Homo sapiens: one gene and its partner. The protein of the gene in region 2 interacts with the protein of the main gene of each other region in a pairwise test. Each region holds a gene or a part of one and is shown on either strand. Other genes may lie near its edges. The genes, in order: UBTD1 and BRD10.

Region 1 (3,715 bases), on a different chromosome or scaffold from region 2:
GTCATTAGGCAAGCATAGACTGTGTCTCTTTTTCTTTGTGTACCCACTCCTGGTCCATGCTCAGTAAGGGGTGCTTGAATGAATGAATACGTGAGTAACCACCTGCCCCACCGCTCCACACTCCTCAACACCCTCAAACTGTGCTGGTGACCCCCTAGCTCCAGCGGGGATAAAGCCCTGGCCCTGCCCACTTACCATGAGGCAGGGTGATGCTGGCTCCATCCAGGATGGCCTGGGCCAGCTCGTGGTCGTTGGCTTCAGCAGCATAGGCGGCAGCCTTGAGGGCATCCCAGATCTCCTTGCGGCCCTCGAAGGCAGGCGCTGTGTCCCAGAACTCATCCCGTTTGCTCCGCAGCTGCCCGTCAGTCATGGGGTAGTCGCTCTTCCACTTAAGCCGCTCTTTCTTCAGGGGCTCATTGCGTCCTGGGCAGGACAGAAGGAGAGGCTCAGCATCTCTAAAGCCACTTGAGCTGCAACCTGCCCTCCCCCTCCCCTCCCCTCCCCAGGCCAGACCCTGAAACCCTGCTGCACTGGCTACTAAGTATTCAGGTCTTTGAAGCCCTTCCTAAATAGCAGGGAAGAGTCAGAAAACTTCACATAACCAACCTAGGGACATAAAATAATTGTGTCAGCAAAGCATACGCTACCATTGTTTTTGTTTTTTGTTTTTTGTTTTTGAGATGGAGTTTCACTCTTGTTGCCCAGGCTGGAGTGCAATGGCATGACCTCGGCTCACTGCAACCTCCGCCTCCCGGGTTCAAGCGACTCTCCTGCCTCAGCCTCCCGAGTAGCTGGGATTACAGGCGCCCACCACCACGCCTGATTAATTTTTGTATTTTTAGTAGAGATGGGGTTTCACCATGTTAGTCAGGCTGGTCTCAAACTCCTGACCTCGTGATCCACCCGCCTCAGCCTCCCGAAGTACTGGGATTACAGGCGTGAGCCACCGCACCCTTCCCACATGATGTGGGGCAGGGCGCGGTGGCTCACGCCTGTAATCCCAGCACTTTGGGAGGCAGTAGGATTGCTTGAGCCCGGCAGTTCTAGACCACCCAGGGCAACATGGTAAAACCCTGTTTCTACAAAAAAATTTTAAAAATTAGCCAGGCATGATGGCACGCTCCTCTAGTTCCAGCTACTTGGGAGGCTGAGATGGGAGAATCACTTGAGCCTGGGAGGTTGAGGCTGCAGTGAGCTGTGGTCATGCCACTGCACTCCATCCTGGGCAACACAGCGAAACCATGTCTCAAAAAAAAAATTATTAACAATTTTAACATCTTGTTACTAATGTCCCACTTAAAAAAAGGATTTTTTAAGCAATCATGACCAACAAACTCCCCCAAAAATTCCTGCAGCATCTGACAAAGAAAACAATTCTGTCAAATGTCATTTTTCTTGTTACCCAGCTCCAAGTGACCTCCAAGACAACTCCAAACCACAGCCAAGACTGAGGGCAGAGGTATCTCTCAAAGGCTTTTGGAGGCTCAGTCATCTCAAAACTAAAGGCAGAGTGAGCCACAGGAGTGAGATGTGAAGCACTCTGCTTCCACTATAACTCAGGTCCTACAGTGAGTGGAAGAACTGAGGCTGGGGGCCACCACCAGGCTGCTCCCACTGGCTGGGGCAAAAGGAAGCAAGGAAGAGAATTGCAGGCAGCGATCTCCGCTGAGAAAGAACCCCAGGCAAGCCTTTATTTATATACATGATCCCATTTCATTCTTGCAGTAGCCTTAGGCAGTAGGTATTATTATTGCTATTTCACAGGTGATATGACAGATTTAGAGAGATTAAATGACTTGCCCCAGGTCACATAGTAAGTGAGTGAGGGTTCCACCTCAGGTCTGACTAAATCCTGTAGTTCACCATCTGAATTCACAGTTACCTGTAGGGGCAGAAAACTCTAAAGCCAAATATTTAATTTAAAGTGTTCCTGGGGTGGTGAGGTGGCAGAAGGAAAGGCAAACCCTCTTTGGAGGAAAACAACTTCAAACCAGGCCTCAAAGAATTCCCAAGATAAAGTTCCAAGAAAAATAAATAAGGTAATAGTTTTAAAAAAAAAAAAAAAAATCTCAATATGCAAGGAAACAAGGCAGTACGAGCTTTACTGGCAAAAACAGCAGACAAAAGAATCAGATTTGCAAAGACTTTGGATAGATTATGAAATACTGAGTTAAGGGATGAGGGCCTTAAAAATATGAATAAGAGATTATAAAGAATGACCAAGGAGATTTTTTAAAAATGTTTAATTTTTGTGGGTACATAGTAGGTATAACCAAGAAGATCTTAAAAGAACCATATAGAACTTCTAAAAATTAAAAATACAGGCCAGGCCTAGTGGCTCACACCTGTAGTCCCAGCACTTTGGGAGGTCAAGGCAGATGGATCACTTGAGCCCAGGAATTCGAGATCAGCCTGGGCAATATGGCAAAAACCTGTCTCTACAAAAAATACAAAAAATTAGTCGGGCATGGTGGCATGCAGCTGTAGTCCCAGTTATTTAGGAGGCTGAGGTGGGAGGATCACCTGAGCCCAGAAAGGTTGAGGCTGCAGTGAGCCATGATCATGCCACTGCACTCCAAATCCAGCCTGGGTGACAAAGTGAGACCCTGTCTCAAAAAAATAAAAAGAAAATAAAAATAAAGAAAAATACAATATAATTGAGATTCGGATGTCTTTTTTCTGTTTGAGAGACAAGGTCACTCTGTCGCCCAGTCTGGAGTGCGGTGGTGTGATCATAGCTCACTGCAGCCTCAAACTCCTGGGCTCAAGGTATTCTCCCCCAGCAGCCTCCCAAGCAGCTGGGACTATATAGGTGACACTATGCCCTGCTAGGTCTAAAATTTTGAACTGAATTTCCAGAAGTATACAATAGGGAAAATGGGAAGGAAGCAACATTCAAAGAAATCATGGAGATGTCCACTCCCCCTAAACTGATCTATAAATGTAATACAATTCCAATATAATTCCTGTCAGTTTTTTCCCAAGGAACCTGGCAAACTGATTCTAAATTTTATATAGAAGAACAAAGATGTTCCTAGAAAAGAATCAGGTGGGAGAAGTTGTGCTGCCATGATCAGCATTAATTATAAAGCTACAGTTGGCACAGTACTGGAACAGGGACAGACTGTTGGACAAAAAAAGCCAAACCCCGTAAAATATTTGAAGAGATTTATTCTGAGCCAAATGTGAGGGCCATGACTTGTGATGCAGTCTCAAGAGGTTCTGAGAACATGTGCCCAAGGTAGTTGGATTACAGCTTGGTTTTATATGTTTTAGGGAGATTTAAGACATCAATCATTACATGTGAGATATACATTGGTTTGTGTGGAAAGGAGCGACAACTTGAAGGGGCGGGGACTTAAAGGTCATAGGTGGATTTAAAGATGTTCTGGTTGGCAATTGGTTGAAAGAGTTATTATCTTAAGTCCTCGAATCAACAGAAAGGAATGTCTGGGTTAAGATAAGGAGTTGTGGGCTGGGGGTGGTGGCTCATGCCTGTAATCCCAACACTTTGGGAGGCCAAGGTGGGCAGATCACCTGAGGTCAGGAGTTCGAGACCAGCTGGGCCAACACTGTGAAATCCCATCTCTACTAAAAATACAAAAATTAGCTGGGCGTGGCAGCAGGCACCTGTAATCCCAGCTACTCAGGAGGCTGAGGCAGGAGAATCACTTGAACTTGGGAGGCTGAGGTTGCAGTGAGCTGAGATCGTGCC
Region 2 (3,824 bases):
CCACTAGGAACTGGGGCATTAATAAAAACTAATTTCTGGGCAGAAACACCTGTAGATGTCAGCGCAGGTGTCATATTAATTGCAGTTCCATTGCCAGAAGAAAGAATAGATGGAGCTGATACCAGCATAAGTTTCTGAACTGGAGTCCCACTGATTACATCTCCATTTGTTGCTGCTGTTGCTTCTGACCTTGTAACAGGGTAACTTTTTGTGATATAATCTACTTGTTGCTGTTTAGTTGGAGTATGAATAATATTTGCATTGTTTTGTCCAAAATTTGCTGCTGATATGCTAATTACACTTACCGAACTACTTGTTGTTGATGGTAGTAGAGTACTAGAACAAATAGAGGACTTCAAGGGAGAAGAGGGCATGTGTGAAGTTTTATCTATCACGTGGCCCAAATCACCACTGCCAGTGGTGTGGCCTAATGTAAGTTTGAGATTTTTCCCCATGGATGGGGCAAAGCTAGCTGGAATGGAAACAGAAGTTGGTGTTTGGCTAAAAGGTGAAAGACTAGATGTAGTAGTTGTTCCAGCTACAGGTGAAAAAGCAGAGGAAGAAGTTGTTGATTTTGGCACCAGAAATGCCTGCAGCTGAGGAGCAAAAGTGAAAACTGAACTTGAAGATACAGTATTGGGTGAATTTTGATCTGGGTTGGTCTGTACTTTTACAACTCCAGTGTTCCCACCTCGTGTCCTAACAAGAATTGACTGTGAATCTCTTATGCACACAGTTTTCAGCTCTTGCTTTGCTTCAGAAGAATCAGCAGTCTGTTGTGCAAAACAGTTGAAGGAACTACCAGGATTTGTAGACCCATTTAGTGTTGTTGTTGATGACAGAGGCTGACCTGTGGAGGAAATGGTCGGTGAAGCACTGGGCAAGGAGAATGTGGCTGCTGAAACTGCATTCTTGGCTTTTCCTGCCTCACTCTGGCTAGTCTTAACTGATGGTGTTAATAAGTTACTTACAGAGGTTACAGGCGACAAAGGCTGTGGTCTAGCACTACTTATATTTGATAAAGGTGTAATTGTTTTGTTGAAAGCTGTATTTGGTAGTTGGGTAGAAACAGTTCCTGGTGAGTTGACAAAAACTGATGCTAAAGAAGAATTTATATTTGTTGTCTGTGGGAAAGATGAACAATGTTGTTCTGTACCTTTCTGTTGAAGTGGTGGCACTTCTTTTGCAACTGCTTTTCCTTCTTTATGCTGAATCACAAAATTCTTAGGCAGAATAAGAACTTGCTGCATGATTTTTTCTCCTGTTTTAGGATCCACCATAGGCTGCACCTGAATCTTTACAGAGCTATTTTGAAGATCTATTGGCAACCACTGGCCACAGGGCATTTTGTATACCATTTGTAAAGGACCTTTTGTATTGGTGTGGCAGGTCAATGCTGGCTTTATCGGGCTTGCTTCCGGAGGAGATAAAACTGGTTTTTCCACAGCAAGAGCATTTCTACCTGTGGAAGGAGGCAGTTGATTTGTTAAGGTCACTTTATTCCCAATATTCTTTGCAAGCAAAGCCTGAATGGGTTTGGTCCCTTTCTGGAGAGTAGACACTGGTACTGAATCCAATGAGGCAAATGACTCTGGAAATGATGGCTCTGTATGCTTTGATTCACTGAAACAGTCAATCTGCACATCACTTTCTAGATTCTCAACTGTTGTCTCATTTGTGCTTAACTTTGCCTTCTTCCTTGGAGAAAGCTCTTTTGTGCTGTCATCCACATAATCAGTTTGTTTGGACTGTCGTTTAAGTGTTTTAAGCAGTGTCTTCGGTAAGTCTTTTGAAGGCAATTCCTTTTTCAACAGCTTGCTTCTAGCCATAGGAAAATCTATTTCTGACAACTTCATATCATCTGAAAATTATAAAAACGGGCATTTTGTTTATATAAAACAGCAACTAAATAGTAATAACATCAACTGTAAAAAAGAAAGTCAATCTTTGAGCTGGCAGTGTATTAAGAAATCTACTGCAGGGTGATTCAAAAGCCTTAGCACCACTGATGAAGACAAAGGTAAGGTCATCTTTGACATGATAATCTAGATATCATAACCATGCCCAAGAAAAACCTATTATTGAGAAAATTTTTTTGGTCAAAATTTTTGGTCAAGAATTCTGCTAATTCTTCTGCCAGTGTAAGTGCAAAAAACTGTTTCATTAGAAATACCCAAATAAACAATCAGGGCTCAGAATTTAATTTGCAAAGGAATCTAGTTCTCTTTTTCTAGCTAGGAACATTTTGATACCATAGAGAGATGGTTCTCCAATCTATTCTATTTCTAGAGACTCTAAAGGACAAAAAATATCCAGCTTTTACTGATGTTCATCCTTATAGTGAAAAAATTTATGTTCATATTCGGTCAAACTAGGTTTATAAGACATTACTCTTAATTTGCCAAAGATGGAAAACAATAAGTTAATGCATTTCTAACCACTCTGTTGCCCATATTAACCTCTACATAACCAAAGAAAGTCATTAAACTAGATTTACATAACGTAATCTGATAAACTGAAATGAATTACAGGTAATCTAATCCAGCCCTTTATCCTTATTAAAATGATGTGTTCATTCTGGTCTCATTAGGCCATCAACCATGGTAATTCCTGAAAAAATAATCTTCACAATATTAAGAACTTGTCAAATTCTATTTCTAAAGTAAATTTCAGATACAGTGCTTCAAAAATACTAATAATAAAAAGAAGAGCATGAACCAATTTCAAAGGGATTACAGATCAAGGGTGTGTGGTTTGTAATGGGCAATGACAGGCCTACAGTTTGCAGTCAATTACTGGCTCCTGAAACTCCTAGAAATGTAATAATGACTCCAAGAAACTTTTTTTTTTTTTTGAGACAGCATTTTGCTCTGTTGCCCAGTCTAGAAAGCAGTGGACAGCTCACTGTAACCTTAAATTCCTGGCCTCAAGTGATACTCCTATCTCGACCTCTTGAATAGCTGGGACTACAGGGATGCAACCACCATGCCTGGCTAATTTTTATTTATTTTTTTGTTGAGATGGGGTCTCGCTATGTTGCCTAGGCTAGTAGAAACTTCTTATAAGGATGTGGACACTACTTCTTCAAAACATAACAGATTTCCCTAATCAATATATTTCATTGACCATATTATCTTTTGCCTTCACAGCAAACAAAAACTTCTCTTTGTGCCTTCAGTGTTGACTTAAAAAAAAAGTTTAATGCTTACCTGAATCAAAGTGATCTTTCTCCAGGATATCCAGAGGTTCTGTTGAGTCTATAGACTTACTGATTTCTCCCTTAGGAGAGTCTTTTCCAAGATCTCCTTCACCTTCATCAGTGGTCCATAGTTCTCTATTAAATGTATCATGATCAGGTTGTCTTCTGAAATCATCATAGTCTTTCTTCAGGCGGCTCCTGAAATAAAATGCCCAACATAATAAATAATACATATGATTTAAATTCTTGGAATCTAAACTAACTTTTAACATTTTAAACTACATATGGAAATATTTTTTATTAAGTCACTAGAAATGCTTTAATCTTAAGTGTGTCTAAGATGCTTAGTTCAGTCTTGCCAATGCTCAGGAAGACAGAACCTATGGTATAGGCATAAGAAACTTGAAACTTAAAAAATTATATGTATCTGGCCAGGCATGGTGGCTCATGCCTATAATCCCAGCACTTTGGGAGGCCGAGGTAGGCAGACCTCTTGAGCCCAGGAGTTTGAGACCAGCCTGGCCAACACGGTGAAGCCCTGTCTCTACTAAAAATACAAAAATTAGCCAGGCGTGGTGGTGGGCACCTGTAATCCCAGCTATTCGGGAGGCTGAGGGACGAGAAC

What was found.
Region 1: the proteins of BRD10 (region 2) and UBTD1 interact in a two-hybrid assay, tested with the Homo sapiens proteins (one study listed by BioGRID).

The regions. Positions count from the first base shown.
Region 1 is NC_000010.11:97,564,622-97,568,336, reverse strand, and holds part of UBTD1 (ubiquitin domain-containing protein 1), read right to left. Parts: intron 424-3,715; coding exon 196-423; intron 1-195. UniProt on the Homo sapiens protein: May be involved in the regulation of cellular senescence through a positive feedback loop with TP53. Is a TP53 downstream target gene that increases the stability of TP53 protein by promoting the ubiquitination and degradation of MDM2.
Region 2 is NC_000009.12:5,921,449-5,925,272, forward strand, and holds part of BRD10 (uncharacterized bromodomain-containing protein 10), read right to left. Parts: intron 3,398-3,824; coding exon 3,210-3,397; intron 1,862-3,209; coding exon 1-1,861.